Homo sapiens: one gene and its partners. The protein of the gene in region 1 purifies or fractionates together with the protein of each later gene. This does not show direct contact. Each region holds a gene or a part of one and is shown in the gene's direction. Other genes may lie near its edges.

Evidence for each region. Proteins that work in one complex are often made in the same cells at the same time.
Region 2: the proteins of ECT2 (region 1) and NUMA1 purify together in Homo sapiens (affinity purification with mass spectrometry, with the first as the bait; 2 studies listed by BioGRID). This does not show direct contact.
Region 3: the proteins of ECT2 (region 1) and EIF5B purify together in Homo sapiens (affinity purification with western blotting; 2 studies listed by BioGRID, with this or other methods). This does not show direct contact.
Region 4: the proteins of ECT2 (region 1) and USP9X purify together in Homo sapiens (affinity purification with mass spectrometry, with the first as the bait; 2 studies listed by BioGRID). This does not show direct contact.

Annotation. Positions count from the first base shown.
Region 1 is NC_000003.12:172,816,726-172,819,349, forward strand, and holds part of ECT2 (protein ECT2), read left to right. Parts: coding exon 1-112; intron 113-1,822; coding exon of another isoform or gene 1,823-2,044; exon of another isoform or gene 2,045-2,089; intron 2,090-2,624. UniProt on the Homo sapiens protein: Guanine nucleotide exchange factor (GEF) that catalyzes the exchange of GDP for GTP. Promotes guanine nucleotide exchange on the Rho family members of small GTPases, like RHOA, RHOC, RAC1 and CDC42.
Region 2 is NC_000011.10:72,018,043-72,021,542, reverse strand, and holds part of NUMA1 (nuclear mitotic apparatus protein 1), read left to right. Parts: intron 1-251; coding exon 252-339; intron 340-623; exon of another isoform or gene 624-1,217; intron 1,218-1,925; coding exon 1,926-2,049; intron 2,050-2,533; exon of another isoform or gene 2,534-2,562; coding exon 2,563-2,720; intron 2,721-3,029; coding exon 3,030-3,147; intron 3,148-3,242; coding exon 3,243-3,360; exon of another isoform or gene 3,361-3,500. UniProt on the Homo sapiens protein: Microtubule (MT)-binding protein that plays a role in the formation and maintenance of the spindle poles and the alignement and the segregation of chromosomes during mitotic cell division.
Region 3 is NC_000002.12:99,340,389-99,343,888, forward strand, and holds part of EIF5B (eukaryotic translation initiation factor 5B), read left to right. Parts: intron 1-3,500. UniProt on the Homo sapiens protein: Plays a role in translation initiation.
Region 4 is NC_000023.11:41,228,445-41,231,944, forward strand, and holds part of USP9X (ubiquitin carboxyl-terminal hydrolase 9X), read left to right. Parts: intron 1-808; coding exon 809-965; intron 966-1,122; coding exon 1,123-1,335; coding exon of another isoform or gene 1,336-1,383; intron 1,384-2,056; coding exon 2,057-2,152; intron 2,153-3,500.

The DNA of each region.
Region 1 (2,624 bases):
AAGAGCTCTTCGAAGGGCTCTTATGACATCCCACGGCTCAGTGGAGGGAAGAAGTCCTTCCAGCAATGATAAGCATGTAATGAGTCGTCTTTCTAGCACATCATCATTAGCAGTAAGTTATTTTGATTTAATGGGGTAAATGACTTATTTATGAAGTTGTTATGGAATTTGTTAACTTCTAAAAATTGGAAATATTTCTTCCATTTTAAAAAAATTTTAATAATTTTATTTAACCCAGTATGCTAAAATATTATCATTTGAATGCGAATCAATGTAAAATTATCAGTGAGATATTTTCATTCTTTCTTATGTACTAAGTCTTAAAAATGTGGGGTGCACCTTATACTTACAAAGCTGGCTGCATTTCAGACTGGCTGTGTTTCAGGGGTTTCATAGCCACAAGTGGCTAGTGGCTCCTGGAAGGACAGCACAGCTCTGTACACTAGCACTGAAGAATCAGCATGGAAAGCATGATGCTAGGGGAGAGGAGTTCTCCCCTAGTGCACTTTAAACCTTGGCATCCTATCATACGTCATTTTTTAAATATTTATATCCAAACCTCTAACCTCTTTATTGGGTAAAGGCAACTGAGAAAACCCTACTATGAATGAACTAGAGACATACTTAATGTGTAGTTTATTTGATAGGAAATTTTACTGGGATTGAAATATGTTCTAAAATCTCTGAGAAAAGAAACGCGTTTCAATCTGGCCTGTCACTTTACTAATGTAAATAGCTATGATTCTGTTTATACAGATCGGTTCCAATGACATAGCAGAGACCGAGTTTTATTCCTTTTACTATTTTTGTGATGAGTAGAATATAATCTCTGAAACTGTATTTCAGAGGATGATACGAGTTCTAAATTCATGTATATTGTATATATATGTATGTATATTTAAAGTGTTTCCTGAACAATCCAAATTTCCAACAGTTTCAGAATTATTATTAGATATTTAATACTACTATTACTAAGTATTTGAGTGAAATATCTGTTCTTTATAAAATTATTAACCTACTGAAGTTAAGAAAAGCAAGTGACTGTCATTTCTTAGCTGTGTGTCCTGTAGCAAGTTTCTTATTCTCTCAACTGCATTTTTGCAGATGATGTTATATACTGAGGGGCAATTTGGGTGGTGATTAAGAGCATGGACTCTGGAACCCTAGTGTTCAAATCCTTGCTCTGCTATTTACTAGCTGTATGTGTTTTGGCAAGTTATTAACAATCTGTTTCAATTTCGTTGTCTGTAAAGTGAGTCTTAAGTAGTTATAAGGATTAAGCGAGTTATTATATGTAAAGTGCTTAGAACAGTACCTGGCACATTGTGAGTGCTCTTGAGTTTTATAAGTGATTTCTTTTTATTTATAAAATTTCCGCAGGTAAGACACATAAATAATACTCATTAAATATATATTTTAAAGTTGCTTAAAGTCTTCAGTTAACACATCAAAGAGTTATGGCTAAATCTATTAGTGTATTTATACAGGTTTTTCATCAACATTAATCTTAACCAATGGGAGAGAAGCTGCATTTAGTTGATAAAATGAATATATGCAAAGTAGTTTGGCCAATTAAAATTGACAAATGCAGATAAACATTAATTTGTGAAAATTAGATTATAGCTTTCTCGAAGCCACCTGTAGCAACTATTGTAAACATTTTCATCTTTCAAATGAAAATAAATGAATTTTATAGAAAATTTTAGAAAATTAATTTATTTATGGTTATGTCACTTTTAATAGACAGCATATGTAAGAAGCAGCTAAAATACCTTCAAGACATTAATGTCATCTTCTCAATTGCTTGTTTCTGTTCTAACAGATTACCCATTCTGTTTCCACAAGCAATGTAATTGGATTTACTAAGCATGTTTATGTTCAGCGCCTAAACTCTACTGGTGGGCGCTCTCAGTACTCCTGGTTTCAATCTGTACGTCATTCTGCTTTCCGAGCTAGTTTTTCAGAGATACTAGAAGGAAATACTGATTTTTCAAATTTCAAAAAAGTTCTTTCCAAGTCATCTTTGACATTTGTGAAGAATTAGGAGATTTGCCAACCACTAATGGAAACAAGCCTCATGAAGTTTAATGTGAGCTTATTAGCTATTTAAAATTTGTATTTGCGGGAAAAAAAAAAGGAACATATTTTTTCTCCAAGGAATCACTTATTTGGTGGGTGGGAACTTTGGAATTCACAATGTTATGACTGCTTTGAATTAATAACAATTTAGGTTTAATAGAGTTTCTTAAGTCCAGAAAAAATAAGTTCCATTAGAAATTTTCTTATTTAGGAAAATTATCATTTTAAAGAATAGTAATTGTCATGAGTAGTGGATTTATATTCCAAATCTGATTCTTAATGTTAGATTTATAGCATTTATAGAAAATTATGCTTTTAATATGCCAAATCATAAAAGTTCCATGTGAGGAAAGTGTAAACTTTTATATTATACATTCATATCATCATTTTGTTGATACTTGAATGGTTATACTTCATCAACCCAGCTTTTTAAATGCTTCATTTTACAACCTTGTTGATGAGAACTTAAGCCAATTACCTTACTAGCTCTTACAGTTAGCCATTTATATATGTTAAAACAGTAGCCTTATAATTTATTTTGATTT
Region 2 (3,500 bases), on another chromosome or scaffold:
AGTCAGGAACTCTGACTTCGGTACATCTTGAGGGGAGGTGGGAGGGAAGGGGACAAGTGGGGTGAACATATCTCTAGTTGAATGTTGTTGGCTGGGTCATAGGACCTCAGCTCTGAGAGGGAGAATGGGATCCAGCAGGCTCCTAGGGCATGAGGGAGCCGGGGACTGGCACTGCCAGGGTGGAGCTCCTGGCAGCCATCCCTTCAGAGGCCTAACACCTAAGTGATGCTCTTTTTCTCCCTGTGGCCCAGGCTGAGTTGGCTGTCATTCTTAAATTTGTGCTGGACCATGAGGACGGGCTAAACCTTAATGAGGACCTAGAGAACTTCCTACAGAAAGGTAAGTAGGTACACACTCCTGAGAATCCCCTCATCTCTGAAATGGGGAATACTAGGATCCTGAGTTGTCAAGTATGGTGGGGGTTTGTTTCTGTCCCCAACACAAGGCAGAGTTGATGCTCAGGAAAAGTGTGTGTAATGGAGTAGGTCGATTTCTGGGCCATGTTGTATCATCTCAGTTCCTATGGAGCTCCTCCTTGCTGCCTGGCAGCAGTTATGTAGGATATTTACAAGTGATCATACCTACTTTTGTTTTTTATTTTTTAAACAATCATTACTCTAGGCTTAGAAGCTGAGAATACAGTCTTTTTATTTTTATTTTTATTTTTTTTTGAGACAGAGTCTCTCTCTGTCGCCCAGGCTGGAGTGTAGTGGTGCGATCTCAGCTCACTGCAATCTCCACTTCCCGTGTTCAAGCAATTCTCCTGCTTAGCCTCCCGAGTAGCTGGGATTACAGGCGCATGCCACCACACCTGGCTAATTTTTGTATTTTTTGTAGAGACGGGGTTTCACCATGTTGATTAGGCTGGTCTCGAACTCCTGACATCAGGTGATCCACCTGCCTCGGCCTCCCAAAGTGTTAGGAATACAGGCATGAGCCACTGCGCCCGGCCCACAGTCTTTTAAAAAATGTTTTTCCCGTCATGTAGTGCATGTTCTAGGTGGAAAGGCAGATACATAAACCAGGAAATAATGATAAGGAATCTAAGTACGGAATATATCAATGGCCTCGGCTGGTACTACAGTAGAAAGAGTGATCGTTCTGCTGGTCTTCTGATGAAGAGGTCAGCTGGTGGATGATAGGAATGTAAGAAGGAGGTCTAGGCGAGTTCTAGCCGTTGAGTTTGATGTTCCTTGTATTCAGGTTCCTCATGAGACCTTCAGGTGGAGATGTTAGAAATGTGAGTCCAGAATTCAGGAGCAGGCTCTGGACCAGAAGATAGGTTTGCAAGTCAGCATTGGATGGCCACTGAAGCCGTGGGCACTATGGGCAGAGCCAAGAGGCCCCATCAGATCTCTGGGAGCTTAGAGGGTGGGTAGAGGAGGGAGGAGCAGATGAGGAGACTTAAGAATGGGTGATTAGAGGTAGGAGAGTCCTACAAAAGGGGTCACGGAAACCACGGAAAGAGAAGGGTTTTGAGGAGGAGGGCATTTTGGAGGTGCAAGGCTTCAGGGGGGATGAATTCCAAATGGTGGCCAATGGCTCTGATAGGAAAGGTTGTTGGGGGCTGCAAGGAGATCCTGCTCAGGGCTCCCCAAGCCGTCTCTGCAGTGTGGACTCGAGGAAAAAGCTTGAGCACTTGGTGCAGTTTCTGAGCCAGAGGACACCGTCACTCCACTGTGCTCTGAGTAATGATGCTCTGTAGAAATGGAAGCCCTGCACTTCATTTTGGTTAGAGACACGGAACTCTGGATAACCCAGGCACCAGGTTTCAGGTTCTGCCCAGTGCCTTCCTTGGTAGTTTACATATAAGTATCCATGGATATACTCCCACTAAGGCGAGTTCTCAAATTGCATAAAGGTGCAAATCTTTACACCTTCTTACTAACCTTTGTTGATTTATTTTGTCTATTTCTTACCCCCAGCTCCTGTGCCTTCTACCTGTTCTAGCACATTCCCTGAAGAGCTCTCCCCACCTAGCCACCAGGCCAAGAGGGAGATTCGCTTCCTAGAGCTACAGAAGGTTGCCTCCTCTTCCAGTGGGAACAAGTATGTTCTGGGCCTCTCCTCCTGGGATAGGGCCTCAGCATCCATCCATTCCTCACATTCCTAACTTCTAGAGTTAAGATGTTAACCAGCCTCTGGGAGTGCTTAGAGTATCCGGTAGATCTGGGATCTCCTCACCTCACCCAGTATTAACTGGGGGAAGTGGTTGGGATTTGTCATGTGCAGAAGGCCTCCCTCAAAAGCTGTTCCCTGTTTATGGAATACCCTTCTTCCTCGGAGACTACAATGAAGTCTCTTCTCTTAGCACATCTCTGCAGAGCCAAGGAGAATATATCACTTTTTTTTTTTCTGACAAAGAAATTAAGGCAGTGAGAAGAAAAGTTTTCCCAAGATCATGTCATGAGGCTTGAGGTAGCACTGCAAACAACCCAGGTGCACAGGCCTCCCAGCTGCTAGTGCGCACTTCCATAGACCCCGCTCCCTTACTGCTGCCTGTTGCTGATTGCTTCAGATCTTAGGCGCTTACCAATGCATATGGGCCTTCTCCCTCCTCAGCTTTCTCTCAGGTTCTCCAGCTTCTCCCATGGGTGATATCCTGCAGACCCCACAGTTCCAGATGAGACGGCTGAAGAAGCAGCTTGCTGATGAGAGAAGTAATAGGGATGAGCTGGAGCTGGAGCTAGCTGAGAACCGCAAGCTCCTCACCGAGAAGGGTAGGTGGCTGGCACACTGGCAGATGTGTGAATAGACTTGCCGGAAGGATGTCCCCTGGCCTCCCATGTTGTCCCCTCTGCTGGCCCCTGGAGCTGAGAGCTCAGCCCTGGGCCTGTGGTCAGGCTGACCTCCTGGAAGCTAGGTTCTGTCTTTGTCCCCATCTTCTCTTTCCCTTAGATTGGATACCATATTCCTCCTCTTCCCTATGCCGTCTCCTCCCTTCCCCTTGTGCACATAGTTCTGTGCACATAGTTCCGCTCATGCACATAGTTCTGATTCTCCTCTCCTCCTCCCTCCACTCTGGGCAGATGCACAGATAGCCATGATGCAGCAGCGCATTGACCGCCTAGCCCTGCTGAATGAGAAGCAGGCGGCCAGCCCACTGGAGCCCAAGGAGCTTGAGGAGCTGCGTGACAAGAATGAGAGGTACAGCTCTCCCTGCATTCCTTCCCAGGCCCCAGCCCCTCCCCTCACCCAGCCAGGAACCCATACTCTCTTCTCACTGCTTCCCTCCCTCGCAGCCTTACCATGCGGCTGCATGAAACCCTGAAGCAGTGCCAGGACCTGAAGACAGAGAAGAGCCAGATGGATCGCAAAATCAACCAGCTTTCGGAGGAGAATGGAGACCTTTCCTTTAAGGTGGGTGTTAAGGTGGTGTGTGCATGGAGGCCCCTCAGGGCTGAGGTGGTCTGGAAGGCTCCCCAAGAGAGGGTTGAGAAGAATGTCCCAGCACCTGTCTTATGCTTCAGTCTCTCCAGAGACCTGCATATTTTGCCCCT
Region 3 (3,500 bases), on another chromosome or scaffold:
CTGGGTGAAGGTCCACACTTTAAAGATTTTACTGTCATTCCACCTCCCCTCCTTGGCTATGTCAGGCATGTTTCTGGCAAGGTGTGAACTGTGTGAGAAATGACAACTGCTTATTTAGTTATCAAGAGAAGGCATGGAGCCACTTTTCAGTTCTTGGACAGAACATACAATACTCACTGTCCTTAATTCTTATATTTAATTAATCCTTATTTTAACTTCTTAGCCACTCAGTATTCATTTAAAATTAGATTTTAACTTACCTAATTTTATTTGTACAGCATGTGTCAGTGATCAAGATATTTATTCTTGTCTGTGTATTTTTAGAATTCTAGAATTTTGCTTAAAGACCAAGTTCTAGAATTCTGTTCCAGTTTGTGAAAAATCTTCTTTTTTTTTTTTGAGATGGAGTCTTGCTCTGTCACCCCGGGTGGAGTACAGTGGCGCGATCTCCACTCACTGCAACCTCCGCCTCCTGGGCTCAAGCGATTCTCCTGCCTCAGCCTCTCAAGTAGCTGGGATGACAGGCGCCCAACACCTGGCTAATTTTTGTGTTTTTAGTAGGGACAGGGTTTCACCATGTTGGCTGCCTGGTTTCAAACTCCTGAACTCAAGTGATCCTCCCACCCTGGCCTCCCAAAGGCCTGGAATTACAGGTGTGATTCACCACGCTCAGCCCCAGTTTGTGTAATTCTAAGAATGAGATTTTGATGTGGTGTTTGTTCAGCAAGTTTTCCTGACCTTTTTCAGTTGACTCGGGAAACTTGTTGAGACAAAGGCTAGGATTCAATATCCACATATCAAACAAATATAATACACATAGCCTAGGTTTAATAAAGGAATTCATTTCTTACTTGCATATATTTGAATGAAACTCTTGTCTGCATAAATTACATCAAAAAAAGATGCATAATCAGAATTCTTTTGGTCTAGCCTGTTCCTATCCTGACGCTTTAGGAAGTGGTAGGGGAAGAAGTCCTAGTTTGCTATAAATTAATAAGAAAACAGATTATAGATTTTTGTTGATAGTAACCTCTCTAGCCTTCCATGCTGTCCCTGTGGGGAACTCATTCAGCTACTTTTAATGTTACTTGCTCATTTGTTGTGCTTTATTTATGCTTCTAAGTTTATTCCAGTATTGCAGTTGATCTATAAGGTGGGCAGAGTGTTGTTTTACCAAGGAACTGAGTGTCAGTGGTTAGGTTAGAATAGCAATTCTCAAATTCTGGTCCTAGACTCCTTTACACTCTTAAATTCCTAAGGAACACAAAAGGCTTCTGTGTATGTAGGTTATATCTACCAGTTACAGGTATTACAAACTAAAACTGAAAAGTTCTTCAAATATTTAATTTAAAAATAAAAATAAACTTACACTATGATACATAACATTATTAAATAACCATATTTTCAAAAATAGAAGAGCTAAGCGTTTTTGCAAACATCTTCACTATTATATGACTTAATAGAAGATAGATCCTCACATTTGCTTATGCATTTGATCTGCAGCATCATCACACATCATTTAGCTTCTGAAAAACTCCCCTGTACAGTTGTGAGAAAATGAGAATGAAAAAGGCTAGTATCCTCTTAGTATTATTTTGAAAATAGTTTTGACCCCCTAAAATAGTTTAGATTCCCTAAAGAGACCTTGGGAATGAATTTGAGGACTGCTGGCCTAGGGATTTCTAAACTAGATTTAGGCATTTGTGAGACATTTCTCAAGCTGTTTGACCATCGTTCATGTATGTCTTACAGGTGCTGAGAATGCTTGAGAATCACTTAAAGGCAACTGAAGACATCTGTGGGCATGTTAATGTTCTTGATATTTTAACAATTTGAGATTTTTCCTTTTTTTTTTTAAATGTAATACTTGCCAAGGTAAATATCAGTTGAGATTGATTTCAATTGGGAGTCCATTAAGTTTATAGATTATTTGTGACACTTGACATCTTTATGGTGTTGAATCATTCCATTCAAGAAATATATTGAGATTTAAGCACTTGAGTGCCAGATATTTTTCTGGATGCTAGAAATATATTTGTGAACAAATAAGTAATATGATTTGCCTCTCCATTTAGTTGGTTAATTTAATTCTATAACAGTAAAATATTATTTTCTTCATTTTAATCTTTAGGATTTGGCTTTTTCCCATGTATCACAGAATTTTTGTTGCTGTTAATGTAATCATTCCTCCCCCTCCTTTTTTTTTGGTAAATTGTAAAATTTTGTCTTTTTTGTCTCCTTTTCTCCTTCCTTTCTGTTGAGAGATGGAATCTCACTCTGTCACCCAGGCTAGAGTGCAATGGTGTGATCATCGCTCCCTGTAACCTTGAACTCATGGACTCAAGCAGTCCTCCCTCCTCAGCCTCCCCAGTAGCTAGGACTGCAGGCATACACCACTGTACTCAGCTAATTTTTAAAAATTTTTTGTAGAGATGGGGTCTCGCTTTGTTACCTAGGCTGGTCTTCAGCTCCTGGCCTCAAGTGATCCTCCCATCTCAGCCTCTCAAAGTGTTGGGATTACAGGTGTGAGCCACTGTGCCTGGCCTGGGTTGTCTTTTTCTTTCTTTCTTTCTTTCTTTCTTTTTTTTTTGAGACCGGGTCTTACTCTGTTGGCCAGGCTGGAGTGCAGTGGCGTGATATTGGCTCACTGCAACCTCTGCCTCCTGGATTCAAGCGATTCTCATGCCTCAGCCTCCCAAGTGGCTGGGACTACAGTGCCACCATGCCCAGCTAATTTTTGTATTTTTAGTAGAGATGCGGTTTCACCATGTTGGCCAGGCTGGTCTCGAAATCCTCACCTCAGGTGATCCATCCGTCTTGGCTTCCCAAAGTGCTGGGATCATAGGTGTGAGCCACCGCACCCAGCCTGGGTTGTATTTTTATTGTTGGGTTGTAAGAGGTCTTGATATAGTCTGGATACTAGATCCTTATCAGATATATGATTTGCAGATACTTTCTCTGATTTCTGTAGTTTGTTTTTTCCACTGTCTTTTAAAGTTTCTTTTTCACAAAAGTTTTAAATTTTGTTGAAGTCCAGTTTATTTTTGTTGTTGTTGCTTGCATTTTGGTGTTGTATCTGAGATAATCTGTTGCCAAATCCAGGGTCGTGAAGATTTACCTGTATGTTTTCTTAAGAGTTTTATTGCTGGCCGGGCACAGTGGCTCATGCCTGTAATCCCAGCACTTTGGGAGGCCGAGGTGGGTGGATCACCTGAGGTCAGGAGTTCGAGACCAGCCTGGCCAACATGGCAAAACCTACTACTAAAAATACAAAAATTAGTCGGGTGTGGTAGCACGCGCCTGTAGTCCCAGCTACTCGGGAGGCTGAGGCAGGAGAATTGCTTGAACCTGGAAGGCGGAGGTTGCAGTGAGCCAAGATTGCACCACTGCACGTCAGCCTGGGTGACAGAGTGAGACTCCATCTCTAAAAATAAAAAAAAAACAAAACTTTTATTGCCTTATCTCTTGCATTTTGGTCTTTGTTCCAGTTTGAATTAATT
Region 4 (3,500 bases), on another chromosome or scaffold:
CCAAATTGTACTATTGCCTGTCAAAATGCTTTGCCTGCCATGTATTCTCATTATTAGAATTCAAATACTGTACCTCCAAATTATGTCACTGAATCCTAACTTGCCTTCAGAGATGCAGTTTTATAAAAGGTATTGATGTGTAGCAAATTACCCTCAACTACAGCAGTCATAAACTTAGTTATAACTTTTTTAAAGTTTGCATTACTCTCGAGTGTCCTGAATTCACTTCAGGTAATGTGTTTAAATTACATATATGGCAGAATTATTTTGGACTGGTAATAAGTTAGTAAGAGCACAGACTCTGGAGTCACACTGCTCCGCAGCTATATGACCTCGGCAAGCTGTGTAACTCTGTGCCAATTTTCTCACCTGTTAAAAGTTTTAATAATAAGGCCAGGCGCAGTGGCTCATGCCTGTAATCCCAGCACTTTGGGAGGCCGAGGCAGGCGGATCACGAGGTCAGGAGATTGAGACCATCCTGGCTAACACGGTGAAACCCCGTCTCTACTAAAAATACAAAAAATTAGCTGGGCGTGGTGGCACGTGCCTGTAGTTGGGCTGAGGCAGGAGAGAGGCGTGAACCTGGGAGGCAGGACTTGAAGTAAGCCGAGATGGCGCCACTGCACTCCAGCCCAGGCCGTCTCAAAAAAAATAAATAAATAAAAAATAAAGGTTTAATAATAGTACCTATTGTCTAATGTTAGATTAAATGACTAAAAGACATTATTGAGTGGCACATAGTAGGCACTCAGTATATATTAGCTATTAGATTTTAGATGTTTTTATTTTATATCTGGTTCTCTTTCAGAATTCATAATGCACTGAAAGGAATTCCAGATGACCGAGATGGGCTGTTTGACACAATCCAGCGCTCTAAGAATCACTATCAAAAAAGAGCATACCAGTGTATAAAATGTATGGTAGCTCTATTTAGTAACTGTCCTGTTGCTTACCAAATCCTGCAGGTGAGGATTTTTTTCTTATAATTTTGTAGAAATCTTAATCAGAATTAAGGATTCTGTTTTAAAAGAAGAGAATCATGAGAACTTGGGGTTGTCATTTTAAGTTAACTTTGAAGTATTCCAAATCCTCTTATCTATATGGTTTTATTTTCTTTTGCAGGGCAATGGAGATCTTAAAAGAAAGTGGACCTGGGCAGTGGAATGGCTTGGAGATGAACTTGAAAGAAGACCATATACTGGCAATCCTCAGTACACTTACAACAATTGGTCTCCCCCAGTGCAAAGCAATGAAACGTCCAATGGTTATTTCTTGGAGAGATCACATAGTGCTAGGATGACACTTGCAAAAGCTTGTGAACTCTGTCCAGAGGAGGTAAAAAAAGCCACCAGTGTGCAGCAGATAGAAATGGAAGAGAGCAAAGTAATTCTTTATTTTATAGGCCAGTGTTTATGTATTAATGATATTATTAAAAGATTATGTTGAAGTTTTGGGTTTTGAAAAATGTTTATTCGGCTGGGCATGGTGGCTCACGCCTGTAATCCCAACACTTTGGGAGGCCGAGGCAGGCGGATCACCTGAGGTCAGGAGTTCAAGACCAGCCTGGCCAACAAGGTGAAATCCCATCTCCACTAAAAATAGAAAAATTAGTCGGGCGTGGTGGCAGGCGCCTGTAATCTCAGCTACTTGGGAGGCTGAGGCTGGAGAATGACTTGAACCCAGGAGGCACAGATTGCAGTGAGCGGAGATCGTGCCAGTGGGCTCCAGCTTGGGTGACAAGAGTGAAACTCCATCTCAAAAAAAGAAAAGAAAAGAATGTTTATTCTATGTCATTTTAAGCTAATGAAGGGAGCTTTCTTTTGGAGAAATTTCTGTGAAATTGCCTGAAATGTAGTAGTTCTGAGAGAATGCAAATCAGGTTTTTTGTTTTGTTTTTTTTTTTTTTGTTTTTTCCCCAAGTTCTTTATCTGCAGTAAAAGAAAAGTTGCTAATGGGTCAGTTTTGTAGATTTTTAAAATTTATTTCAAATAGAAAAAGTTAAAAGTAAACTTGAGTTTGCCTACGTAATTTTTTATCTTGAAATATTCAAAATTAGGAGCCAGATGACCAAGATGCTCCAGATGAACATGAGTCGCCTCCACCTGAAGATGCCCCATTGTACCCCCATTCACCTGGATCTCAGTATCAACAGGTAAACAGGAGTCAGTTTATGCTTTTATCCCCTAGAACTGGGTTTTATGCTTAATTTTAGAGGATGGCTCAATTGTTTGTTGTGACTACAAAGTAAGAAGTAGGATTATCTAGACTAGCTTTGGGAGCATGATCCAGAAGAGGGATGGTTTGGAGTGGGGGTCATGGTGTAACATGTTTGAACTTAACCACTGTAGGGTTTTCCTTGTCAAGAAGGTGTCCTTCTTGTGCTAGTAGTTAATAAAACTGTATGAGAATTTATATCAACATAAAATGATCATTGTTTAGTGCAAAGGATTGTGGTGACATTTCCGGTGAGGTAAAATCTTCACCTGGATTCCAAAAACATTATTAAGATATGGCAATGAAGTAAGAAGTCCTTGGTTACTTAGCCACAGGTTTCAGTGATGGTAAAAATCACTGGAAAAAAAAGGATTTGGGTAGATTTCCATAGGTGATTAAAGTAAATAAACTAGTAAATAGCAAAAGAAATGAGATGAAGAAACATTCTAAATGATAACTTTTTCTTTCTGAAACCAAAATGTGACTAAATCAGCTCTTGTGAGGCAGTGGTACTCAAACTTGCACAGGCGTGAGTCTCCCTGGAAGGGTTGCTCCAGCAGAGAGCTAGATGCTACCCTAAAGTGTCTTATTTCATAGGTCTTCAAGGGGCTGGAAAATGTACATTTCTAGCAAGTTCCCAAGTGATGCTGCTGGTGGTCCAGGAACCATACTTGGAGAAACATTTCAGGCATTCTTTCTTACATTTCACTGTGTACATAGAAGCAAACTGAATAGTTAGGAAGTACACATTCAGCGTACTTATTTTCATCTATAGAAAGTAAAGCCTGGCCAGGCGCGGTAGCTCATGCCTGTAATCCCAACACTTTGGAAGGCTGAGGCAGGTGGATCACCTGAGGTCAGGAGTTTGAGACCAGCCTGACCAACATGGAGAAGCCCTGTCTCTACTAAAAATACAAAATTAGCCGGGTATGGTGGTGGCGCATGCCTGTAATCCCAGCTACTCAGGAGGCTGAGGCAAGAGAATCTCTTGAACCCAGGAGGCAGAGGTGGTGGTGAGTCGAGATAGCACCATTGCACTCCAGCCTGGGCAACAAGAGCGAAACTCCCATCTCAAAAAAAAAAAAAAAAAAGTTAAGCCTAAAATCTTGGCTTGGCTGATGGAGCATGTACAGAAAAATGAGAGCACTGTAGGGTTCAGACATTTTAAAAGGTTAAGGAACCAAATCCACAAGGAAGGTTAACTTCCTTTGACCCTGAGAAAGCTCTTATGTTAATCATGCCTGGTTACTTTATCATCTTGAACATTGTTCTGTTTTTAATCAGCA